Linked DNA regions of Homo sapiens. The protein of the gene in region 1 purifies or fractionates together with the protein of each later gene. This does not show direct contact. Each region holds a gene or a part of one and is shown in the gene's direction. Other genes may lie near its edges. The genes, in order: ZBTB49, PSD2 and HINFP.

Evidence for each region.
Region 2: the proteins of ZBTB49 (region 1) and PSD2 purify together in Homo sapiens (affinity purification with mass spectrometry; one large-scale study listed by BioGRID and IntAct). This does not show direct contact.
Region 3: the proteins of ZBTB49 (region 1) and HINFP purify together in Homo sapiens (affinity purification with western blotting; one study listed by BioGRID). This does not show direct contact.

The regions. Positions count from the first base shown.
Region 1 is NC_000004.12:4,310,679-4,314,329, forward strand, and holds part of ZBTB49 (zinc finger and BTB domain-containing protein 49), read left to right. Parts: intron 1-2,362; coding exon 2,363-2,436; intron 2,437-3,651. UniProt on the Homo sapiens protein: Transcription factor. Inhibits cell proliferation by activating either CDKN1A/p21 transcription or RB1 transcription.
Region 2 is NC_000005.10:139,816,262-139,819,912, forward strand, and holds part of PSD2 (PH and SEC7 domain-containing protein 2), read left to right. Parts: intron 1-1,219; coding exon 1,220-1,300; intron 1,301-3,651.
Region 3 is NC_000011.10:119,124,580-119,128,230, forward strand, and holds part of HINFP (histone H4 transcription factor), read left to right. Parts: intron 1-700; exon of another isoform or gene 701-1,188; coding exon of another isoform or gene 1,189-1,220; intron 1,221-2,355; coding exon of another isoform or gene 2,356-2,365; coding exon 2,366-2,546; intron 2,547-3,651. UniProt on the Homo sapiens protein: Transcriptional repressor that binds to the consensus sequence 5'-CGGACGTT-3' and to the RB1 promoter. Transcriptional activator that promotes histone H4 gene transcription at the G1/S phase transition in conjunction with NPAT.

The DNA.
Region 1 (3,651 bases):
TTTTTTTTTTTTTTGTATTTTTAGTAGAGACGGGGTTTCACCATGTTAGCCAGGATGGTCTCGATCTCCTGATCTCATGATCCACCTGCCTCAGCCTCCCAAAGTGCTGGGATTACGGGCATGAGCCACTGCGCCCGGCCTACTTGCTAGAATTTTTATGGACACAACTATAGGTGATTTCTAAGACATGGTCTGTGCACCTAAGATATCCTTAGTACTAGAATATATCAAAAGTTTACCAAAAATAAAAATATTGACTAAAGCTCTAATAATCTGGGCCTGAGTTTGCTGTGTAACCTGGAATAAATTATCTGAATGTACTATTGGATTTTTTGCATGGCCCATTCCATTAGTTTTATTTAATCTGCTTTTATATTATTTATCAGAAATATGCATTCCTGTATCAGGGAGAAAGATTGTTTTCATTATCTATTTCTAGTACAAAATAGGTAAAGAACACTTTAAAGATTTTTCTACCACTTAAAATATTAAATGGAAGATCATTTGATTATATTTCTTTTGAAAACAAGTAATCGTTATGCCATTTTTAAAAAGGAAAAATGCAACATTGCTAAGAATTAACCCAGAATGCATTTCATTCAGAATACATAGTTTACAAAATAACCGAAAAAAGAGGGCTCTAATTTAACAGTTCAGCAGATGGTGCTATTCCGATTATTATGCAACTGATCAGCTTTTCTGAAATTTGCAAGTGACTAATTTAAAACACTGGTGTATTATTTTTAACTCTCCAGTATGTGTTTCCTGAGTGGCAAAGTTACCGTCATATTGAATATTCAAAACACACTATTTCATTCATAGAAACTTGTGTTTCCTCAAGGTTTCCCCACAAGTAGAGGAGTTTAGATTCACAGCAACCAGTATTAATTTCTGGCCCCACCATGTAACTGAGACAACTCCTTTATTTATCTGAATACAATGGTAATTGTACAGTTTATCTGAATACAGTGTTAGTTGTATTATTATCTCAAGAAAATAGGTGGTAAAGGCCTAATTTGAAGTTCAGCAAATGTATATTGCTGTTGATATTTGTTTTATTGTTATTAGGAGCCATTCTATTAAAAGCTGGACATTTTCCAAAGTTTTGTCAAACTCTTTCTCTTTGGTTGTTGAAAATAAACTTGAGTTTTTTCGAAGCCACATTTATCATATTCTTAAATGTAATGTCTAACTCTGTTTCCCAGAATTTGATAGACATGATGAATCTTTCATGTTATATAGTCCGCAGATGGCATTTTTAATACTTGTGAATTCTAGTTTTCATTCACAAGTCAATATCAAACTCATCTTCAAATCTTAACCATGAATCTTAATCTTTGCATTTTATTTAAAATGCAATTTGCAAATTAAAAAAAGCCCCGTGTGTTAGTTGGCTAGTATTCATTCTCGTTTTTCACTTATCTTGTGCATGACACCTGCTCATTTTTACCGCTGGGTATATTACCTCATTTCAGTAGGTTTTCCTTTTTTTTCTTTTTCTTTTTTTTGCCACAGAACACTGTACAAAATTAAAATGAGGAAAATAAAGGTTGAGACTATTAACTTAATTACAGCAATGGAAGATTTTCCAAACCTAATTCGAAACATTAGCAATTAGCTTTTTAAATATCTGAGGCATTTGCAGTTTTAATTTCGCTGTACTTTAGGTAATTTAATATTGATTTCCTGTTGATTAGTACATAGAAATCCATCTGATGATCTCCGTTTCAGTGTTATTCTTCGCAAAGCCTTGCTAGTTTCAGAAATTAGGAACACAATGGCCCTGCACCTGAGAGGCTGCTGTGATTCTCCTGATTTGCCCTTTTGCACAAAGGTAAAATTGAGAAACCTGTCAGAAAGAACCAAGTGTACTTGCCAGAGGAAGTACTTTTTGGAAATGTCTTCCCTTCTTTATGAACAGAAGTATGTTTTTTAGAAAGAAACAATACTGAAATAAGGACGTATGGTGCTTTTGTTTGTTTTAAGTGATGTTTTAAATACATGGCCCAAATAAAATACATCAAGGCCTATTTAAAGTCCAGGCTTGGCGACCACCAAAGCAGCCTCCACAGGGTGCTGTTAAGAGGGAAGCACTGCATAGGGCCTGCCTGAACTAGGACACAGCCAAGGGCTCACATGGAGGACGGGGTGGAGACACATCTCGTGTACAGCAGGTGGCCAGGCACTCTGGCTGCTCTTCACGCTCTTGCCCATGGCTTCTTTTGAGTTGTGTGTAGCTCATCTTCATCTGGAATTTGAATTGGAACCTGGCTAAATGTGTCAGTTTTCCTTTTGAATTTATATAATTTAAAAAACCAAAAACTTTCATTATTGGTGTGTTTTTCTTTTCCTCTTTTTGCAGGCAGGTAACTTGCAGACTCACTTACGACGGCATTCTGGTGAAAAACCATACATCTGCGAGATCTGTGGAAAGAGGTCAGTGCTGGGCGTGTTCTTCCGTGTGGAAGGGAGCATGTCTAGTCTCAGTGTCTTTGGTAGTCAGTGTCTTCTGAAGTGGTGGCTCACAGATGAGCCACAGGTGGGCTCACCCTGCCACTGCAGAACACAGGTAAATTCAAACCTTCTGGCTTTGCATGTGACACACGAGAGAATAATAAAAAGAAAAGTTAATTCAAAGAAAGAAAAGCTGGGACAGGAGTCCCAAAAAGGAAATGGGGTTTTAAATGCAACAAAATTATTTTATACTAATATTTTCATTCATTCTAAAAATGTCTCTGAAAATATAATAGATTAATGCCCCCAAGGAGGTGACTGTCTAGTAGGGGAAATGGGACTTGGCAGCTGAGTGACTAGATTTCAGGAGAGAAGGAGGTGGTGGAAGGTGCCACAAGCCGTGGGTCTGTAACAGCCTGTGAGAGCTCCACCCCAGGGAGGAGGAAACTAAGTCTTGATGGGTGGGTAGGATTTTGACCTGGCAAAAGAGAATCTGACTCTTGACGTGGAATAAAGTGTGTGGCAGCTCGATTCCTCTGCAGCGTGGTATAAATGAGGAGCTCTTCCCCTGCTGTGTGTGCAGGCTGGCACCCTCGACCCTCCTTCCTGTCCTTGGGCTGTACGTCAATCAGGCCACGTACTCCATCATCTGGTGGTTGTGCCAGGACAACAGGCATCAGCCAGGACTATGCCAGTCACGAAGCTCTGTACGCACCTTGGTTACGTAGCTTTTATATTCATTTATTTAATCATTCATTGATTCAACATTTTTTAGACACCTGCTGTATGCCAAGTGCTATATGGGTCCATAAAAATAAACAGTACAGAGTCTCTGCCTGTCACAGATTCATACCGAAGTGCCTTGAGGCAAGAGATAGTCACGGGGTCAGTTAGAAGTCAGTGTCCTCATATTCAGTCTCAGCACATGCTGGGGAAAGCCGAGGAGGAAGCGACTCTCGATTCAGTTTCAGGAAAACCATTTCTCTGCCAATGGTAGAAAACAAACAAAAGCTGCGGCGGGCAGCGCATCTCCCTTTCTGCTGTAGCTACCTGAACGCTGAAAGTCAAGTTCAGGGCCCAGTGTCATCTGCCGCTCCTTCCAGATGCCTGGGAGCATAGCCCTCCTGCTGCCTCTGATGGCATCACTTCACTGTTGGCCCCTGCATGTCTTGTTTTGCATGGTGTTTGAAATCTGAA
Region 2 (3,651 bases), on another chromosome or scaffold:
CTAACAAAATGAACAAAAAGTTCTTAATCTCTCCAACATTCAGTCTGTGTTTAATTTTCTCTGATTGTCTAAAAAATGTTGGTTTATTGAAATCAAGATTCAAACAGGGTCCACACATTGCACTTGGCCGATTGGTCTGTTAAGTCTCTTTTAACCAACAACAGTTCTGCAGTTTGGCGGTCCTCCTCCCTTCTTAAGTGCCGTGTATTTGTTGAAGAAACCAAGCCATTTGTCCTAAAGAATGTTCCACGGTTTGGATATGGTATCCTGATGGTGTTATTTAACATGTTTCTCTATTTCCCATGAGTCCTGCAAATGGGCAGCGAGCTCCAGGCTTAATTAGAATCAGGTGGAAATTTGTTCTAGTTTTTGACAAGAATTCCTCATGCCAGTCTTCTTGAAATACAGTCTTCGTTGGCCTGCAGGACAACACACCCCACCTCTGGCTGCTGCTTCTCAGCCTCCTTCGCTGGCTCGCTCCTGGGTTCCCACCCCGATTCGGGGCTCTGGGCCGGCCAGCTTGTCTGTGCCCTCTCCTGTTGCATGGGCTCAGCCCCACCCTGAGCTGTTACTGACCAGCTGTGAATTGATGACTCTCACACGGATGCCTCGTCCTGAAGTCTCACATCTCCCGCAGGGGACCACCTTCTTGGTCATGCCGCACGTCCATTCCATCTCCTTGTCTTGTGGATTCTGCCCCCTAAATTTCTCTTTTCCCCATCCCTTCTATCTCTATCTGGACAACTATGGCAGTCCCCCTGTGGGTCTCCACTCAGCAGGTAGCGCATTCCAAAATACAGACTGACCATCCCTGCTTTAACCTTTCTGAATCAAGTCCTGGTCCTTCCCCTGGTCCCGGCCTCATCACTTGCTGCCCCATTCTTGCTCTTTAGGTTCTGGCCACATGGCCCTGCTAGTAGCTTCTTGGACATGCCATGCAGTTTCCTCCCTGGGGACACTGCATCATCCCACCCCTACTCCCTTCGCCTGGTTAGCTCGTAATTCCCTGTGTTGACTGAGACATCACCTCCTCCAGAAAGCCTTCCTGACACCCCAAGACCAAGGTTGAATGTTATGGCCCAACTAGCCAGCAGCCTAGGGGTTGAGCAGGTCTAGGGGGTGGGTGGGTCCGGGTACCCTGGGCCCAAGTAATGCCTGTGATTCTGTCATCCTTGGGCTGGACCCTGCTTCTAACAGACATCCCATACTCTCCTGGCAGCAACGAGTTTAGCAGGCTGGTGGCCGGGGAGTACCTCAGTTTCTTCGACTTCTCGGGCTTGACTCTGGACGGAGCACTCAGGTCAGTGGGGCTGGGACAGGCAGTGCCCACAAGTGGTACAGGCTGCACTTCTGGATTCTCATGTCAACTCTACCATAAACTTGCTGTACAACCTTGGGCAAGTCTTTTGACCCCTGGTGAGGCTGTGGGGAAGGGGCCACAGGAGCAGCAGCGGCCCAACAGTTAGGCGAGTGCCCACTTTGTAGTAGCTGTTAGGATGTGAGGGTGGAAATGTAATTGTGACTCTAGGAGAGGAAGGGAGGCTCAGGACTTGCCTGTATTGAGCACTTCCTGCCTGCCAGATGCTCTAGGTCTTTACTCACCTTGCTTACTGCATCCTCTGTACCCAGTAAGGTAGGCACTATCATTCCTATTTTTCACATGAAGAAACTATGGGCCAGAGGGATAAAGAGACTTCCCCACAGTCATCGAAGGAGGAGATGGTAAAATGGGATTTTATCTCAACTCTATTGGTGTTTGGACCTAGGGAGTAGACCTCAGGAGGGCCAATTGCAGGTTCCCAGGAGCAGGAGGGTAGAATGGATGGGTGCAGCCCTGTAGTATCTAGCAGGCTCTGGTGGCAGGGGCCAGCTGGGCAGATACTGGCCAGGTCCTAGGAGAGATGGATGCATCTCAGAGCTAAGGGGTAGGGTGACTCATGCACGTTAGACATCTTGACTGTGTTCCACATGTCTCTTACACTTTAAAAAAATGTAATTTCTGGTCAGGCACAGTGGCTCATACCTGTAATCCCAGCACTTTGGGAGGCCGAGGCTGGAAGATTACCTGAGGCCAGGAGTTCCAGACCAGCCTGGGCAACATAGGGAGGCCCAGTCTCTACAAAAAAGTAGAAAAATTAGCCAGGTATGGTGGTGCAGGCCTGTAGTCCCAGTTCCTCAGGAGGCTTAGGTTGGAGGATCACCTGAGCCTGGGAGGTTGAGGCTACAGTAAGCCATGACTGCACCACTGCACTCCAGCCTGGGTGACAGAGTGAAACCCTATCTCAAAGAAACAAACAAACAAACAAAAACCACATACAAAAAAAGTAATTTCCATTCTTTTTTCTCTGCTTCTGTTGGGATATTTTCGGTTGACCTGTTTTCACTTCACTTCACTTACCCTTTTCTGTTTGTAATATGTCATTAACCCATTTATGCCTGAGGTTGCAATTTTCTGAATTGCAAAATCAGACCTTGGCGATCACCTTGAGCAGTAGGATATAAATAACTCCCACATGCTTAGCGTTCCAATAATGGAACCATAGGCATAAATGGGTTTTGAACTCATTTATTGAGTTTTGAATTTATGTTATATTTTCCATTTCTAGAATTTCCATTTTATTAAAAAATTTAAAAAATAGATTCTAATTCTCTGGGTGAATTATCCATCTTTTCCATTATTTTCTCCACCTTTCCCTCTCTTTTTTTGAACATATTAGTTGTAAAGCCCTTGCTGCTAACTCCAGTATCTATCATCTGAATCATCTGTATCTGTTTCTATTGTCTCTTTTTTCTCTTGGTTTTCCATCATATATCCTGTCTCTTTGCATGCTTAATAACTTAAAAAAATTGGATGCTGTATACTTTGTATAGAATTGTAGTGGTTCTAGATTATTCTGTGTTCCTCCAGAGAGGGTTTACGTTGTCCTTTGCTAGGCAGTTAGAAGGTTTGTGGGGATGCAGTGCTAATCCAATTAAGGTTGCACTGAAGTTTGGTATGGCTCAGGGTTTGCTCTGATAATAGGGTCCAGGCCCTCGGAGTTTTCTACTGGGAGCCTCATGTGTTCAGTTGGGCAAACCCCCTTGTTGGCTCAGAAGCCTAGTTTTGTCTTCTCAGTGCAGCAACACTGCCCCCTCTTCAACAAAATATCCCTCTACTTCTCAGAGGTTTTCTGCTTAGCCTTTTAGCCTCCTGCCTTTTACATCTTTTATATCTCTGAAATTCAGCAACTATCTCAAAGGGAAAAGTGGCCATGTGTTTACAGCCCCTGAAGTCTCCAGCCTCTTGAAGCCACCCAATGCCCTGCCTCTTGCCTGTGCCCATAATCAGCAATGCCCCCAGGGAAAAAGCAGCTGCAGAAGGTCAAACTACCTTCCCGCAGTTCTCTCCTCTCCAGAATCTTGGCCCTTTTTGTCTTTGTTGCCTCAGCAATTTTCCAATATCTTAAGAAAACCCATGGTTTTTATTGTTTTCAGTGGAAGTGTTGGTGTGCTGCAGGCTACTGTATCCTGAGCTGAGTTGTAAAGATTGCGCTAGAATGAGGAAGATTGGTCTGGCAAGGTGTTCAGCGGGGTCAGCTCATGATCAGAGGTGTGGGTGCTAGACTGAGTGCCTTGTATGCCAGCCCAATGCTGAGGCTCAACTGTGCAGGC
Region 3 (3,651 bases), on another chromosome or scaffold:
GTGCTGAGTTAAAAGGGCAGATTTCTAGGCTTAACTCCTGCCTTCCTGAATCCGAACTTCTCACGCAGGCGCTGGATAACTACATTCGTGTGCAGATCTAAAATTGAGAGCTACCTGGGCATGGTGGCTCACATCTATAATCCCAGCACTCTGGGAGGCTGAGGCGGGTGGATCACCTGAGGACAGGAGTTCGAGACCAGCCTGGCCATCATGGTGAAACTCTGTCTCTAGCAAAAATACAAAAATTAGCCAGGCGTGGTGACACACCTGTAATCCCAGCTACTCAGGAGGCTGAGGCAGGAGAATCTCTTGAACCCGGCAGGTGGAGGTTGCAGTGAGCTGAGATTGCGCCACTGCATTCCAGCCTGGGTAACAGCGAGACTCTGTCTCAAAAAATAAAAATAAAATGAAATAAAATTGAGAACCTTTAGTTTTTTGTTTGTGTGTGTGTGTGTGTTTTTTTTTTTTTTTTTTTTTGAGACAGAGTCTTACTCTGTTGCCCAGGCTGGAGTACAGTGGCACGATCTCGGCTCATTGCAGCTTCTGCCTTCCAAGTTCAAGCGATTCTCCTGCCTCAGCCTCCCGAGTAGCTGGGATTACAGGCTTGTGCCACCACGCCTGGCTAATTTTTGTATTTTTAGTAGAGACAGGGTTTCACCATGTTGGCCAGGCTGGTCTTGAACTCCTGACTTCAGATGATCCACCTGTCTTGGCCTCCCAGAGTGCTGGGATTAGAGGTGTGCACCAGTGCGCACAGCCGAGAACCTTCAGTTTCATGTTTATCTTTCTTCAATAAATATTTATTACAGACTGGGTGCAGTGGCTCATGCCTGTAACTCCAACACTTTGGGAGTCTGAGGCAGATGGGTTGCTTGAGTCCAAGAATTCGAGACCAGCCTGGGCAACATGGCAAAACCCTGTCACTACAAAAACAAAACAAAACAAAAATTAGACAGATGTGGTGGCGCATGCCTGTGGTCCCAGTTACTTGGGAGGCTGAGGTAGGAGGATCTCCTGAGCCTGGGGAGGTCGAAGCTTCAGTGAGCTGTGATTGTGCCACTGTACTCCAGCCTGGGTGACAGGGTGAGACTCTGTCTCAAGAAAAAAAATATTTATTACATGCCTAAGCATGCCTAGCAGTGTATAGACACCCAAGGTGCAGTATAAACTACACAGATACGGCTTTTTATGTTCAAATGGAATCTACATTTTAACAGAAGGTATTAGCAGAGTGGTGGAGTAAACCGTTGGATAGGTTAGGTAAAGGCAGATTGTATGGCACTGTGAAAGTCTGGCAGGGGACTTATGATTCAATAAGAAATAAGGAGCTTCTAGGCTCATCTGTAGGCTCTATGGAGTAGAACCGTATATGGACTAGAGTCAGCCCAACATGACCCTACCATTACCACTAGTGTGTGGCCGTGAGCAAGTCAGTTGACCTCTGGAACTTCAGGTGTTTATCTATAAATGAGGTTAAAAATAGCACCTACCAGCTGGGCGTGGTGGCTCACACCTATGATCCCAGCACTTTGGGAAGCCAAGGTGGGTGGATCACCTGAGGGCAGGAGTTTGAGACCAGCCTGACCAACATGGGGAAGAAACCCTGTCTCTACGAAAAATATAAAAATTAGCCAGGCGTGGTGGCGGGCGCCTGTAATCCCAGCTACTCAAGAGGCTGAGGCAGGAGAATCGCTTGAACCCGGGAGGCGGAGGTTGCAGTGAGCCAAAATCGAGCCATTGCACTCCAGCCTGGGAGATGAGCGAAACTCAATCTCAAAAAAAAAAAAAAAAAAAGCACCTACGGCAAAGGGTGGTGTTGGTAATTAAATGACATAATGCAAATAAAATGCTTACTGTGGTGCTTGACATATAGTAAGTGTGAAATTAAAAACAAAAAGATTTATTATCTTCATTTTGCAGATGAGAGTATTCAGAAGTTAAGTTCTTGACAAAGGTCATACAGCTAGTAGATGGTAGACAGTGGAGCCAGGATTTGAACCCTGATCCTTCTCAAAAGCCATCTGTTTGAACCTGAGCATTGTTCTGCCTCACAGAGGAATAATTCCTTCTTGGTGGGTTGCTCTGAAGCTTCATGAGAAAATGTCTGTTAAAGCGTTTAGCTCAGTGCCTGGCACACACTCAATAGTGTTAGTTTTTGTTTTCCCTTTCCACAAACACCAGACATCTTCCAGGGATTTAAGGAATTACTCCATCCTTACTGTAAAAGGGCAGGGTTTCTCATGGGTCACTGGAACAACACGTGCTGATTCTAGGCAGGCTGCCTGCCCAGCTTTTTGCCCTCAGCAGCACCTGGGTGGAATTCTTGCAGCTGTGGATTTCTTCCTCTTCCTCTAGGGTGAAGGCCATGCCGCCTCCTGGGAAAGTTCCCCGAAAGGAGAATCTGTGGCTACAGTGTGAGTGGGGGTCCTGCTCCTTTGTGTGCTCAACCATGGAAAAGTTCTTTGAGCATGTCACTCAGCACCTGCAGCAGCACCTGCATGGCTCTGGGGAGGAGGAGGAAGAGGAAGAGGAGGATGACCCACTTGGTAAGAGAGCAGGACACAGGAAGGGGAGGAGCTCAAGGAAAGGTGGAAAATCTGACTTTCTTTTCCTTAGAGGGAGAAGGCGGCCTAAGAGAATGGTGGTTTATTTTCCTAATTGTGTTTTTGTTGTATATAAAAACATTGTAAACTCATTTATAGAAAACTCAGTCAACAAGGATATAAGGAATAAATCTGCCATCCTGCCATCAAGAAGTAATTGCTGACAGTACTTTAGTGAACATTGTTTTTGACATCTCTCTGCCTGTGTTTACATATATTTAAATACAGATGAATGTGCTTTTTTTTAATCATTCTGTACAAGTTGTTGGCAACCTGTGTTTTGTTGTTGTGTTTTTTTTTTTTTTTTTTTTACTCTTCTAGTATTCCCAATTTTTTTTTTCTTTTACTGCAACCAGTCAGAAATACATCTTACTTTTTAGAGACAGGGCTTCATCTTGTCACCCAGGTTGGAGTCCAGTGTCATGATCATAGCTCACTGCAGCCTTCAACACTCAAGGGATCCTCCTGCCTCAACCTCCCGAGTAGTTAGGACTGCAGGCATGTACCACCACCACACGCCAATTTTTAAAAAAATTTTTTTTAGAGACAGGATCTTGCTTATGTTGCCCACTGATCTCAAACTCCTGGCCTCGAGCAATCCTCCTACCTTAGCCTCCTAAGTAGCTGGGACTATTGGCTTGTGCCACCAAGTCCAACCCCACTCCCACCTTCCAATTTTTTTTTTTTTTTTTGAGACGGAGTCTTGCTCTGTTGCCAGGTTGGAGTGCAATGGTTCGATCTCGGCTCACTGCAGCCTTTGCCTCCCAGGTTCAAGCAATTCTCCTGCCTCAGCCTCTTGTAGCTGGGACTACAGGCGCGCGCCACCACGCCCAACTAATTTTTGTACTTTTAGTAGAGATGGGGTTTCACCATGTTGGCCAGGATGGTCTCAATCTCTTGATCTCATGATCCGCCCACCTCGGCCTCCCAAAGTGCTGGGATTACAGGCGTGAGCCACCGCACCTGGCCCCATCTCTCACTTTTTAACCTTTGTCTGACTTATGTTTTAGGTATGCCTTTTATCAATAGCAAATAACTGGGATTTTAA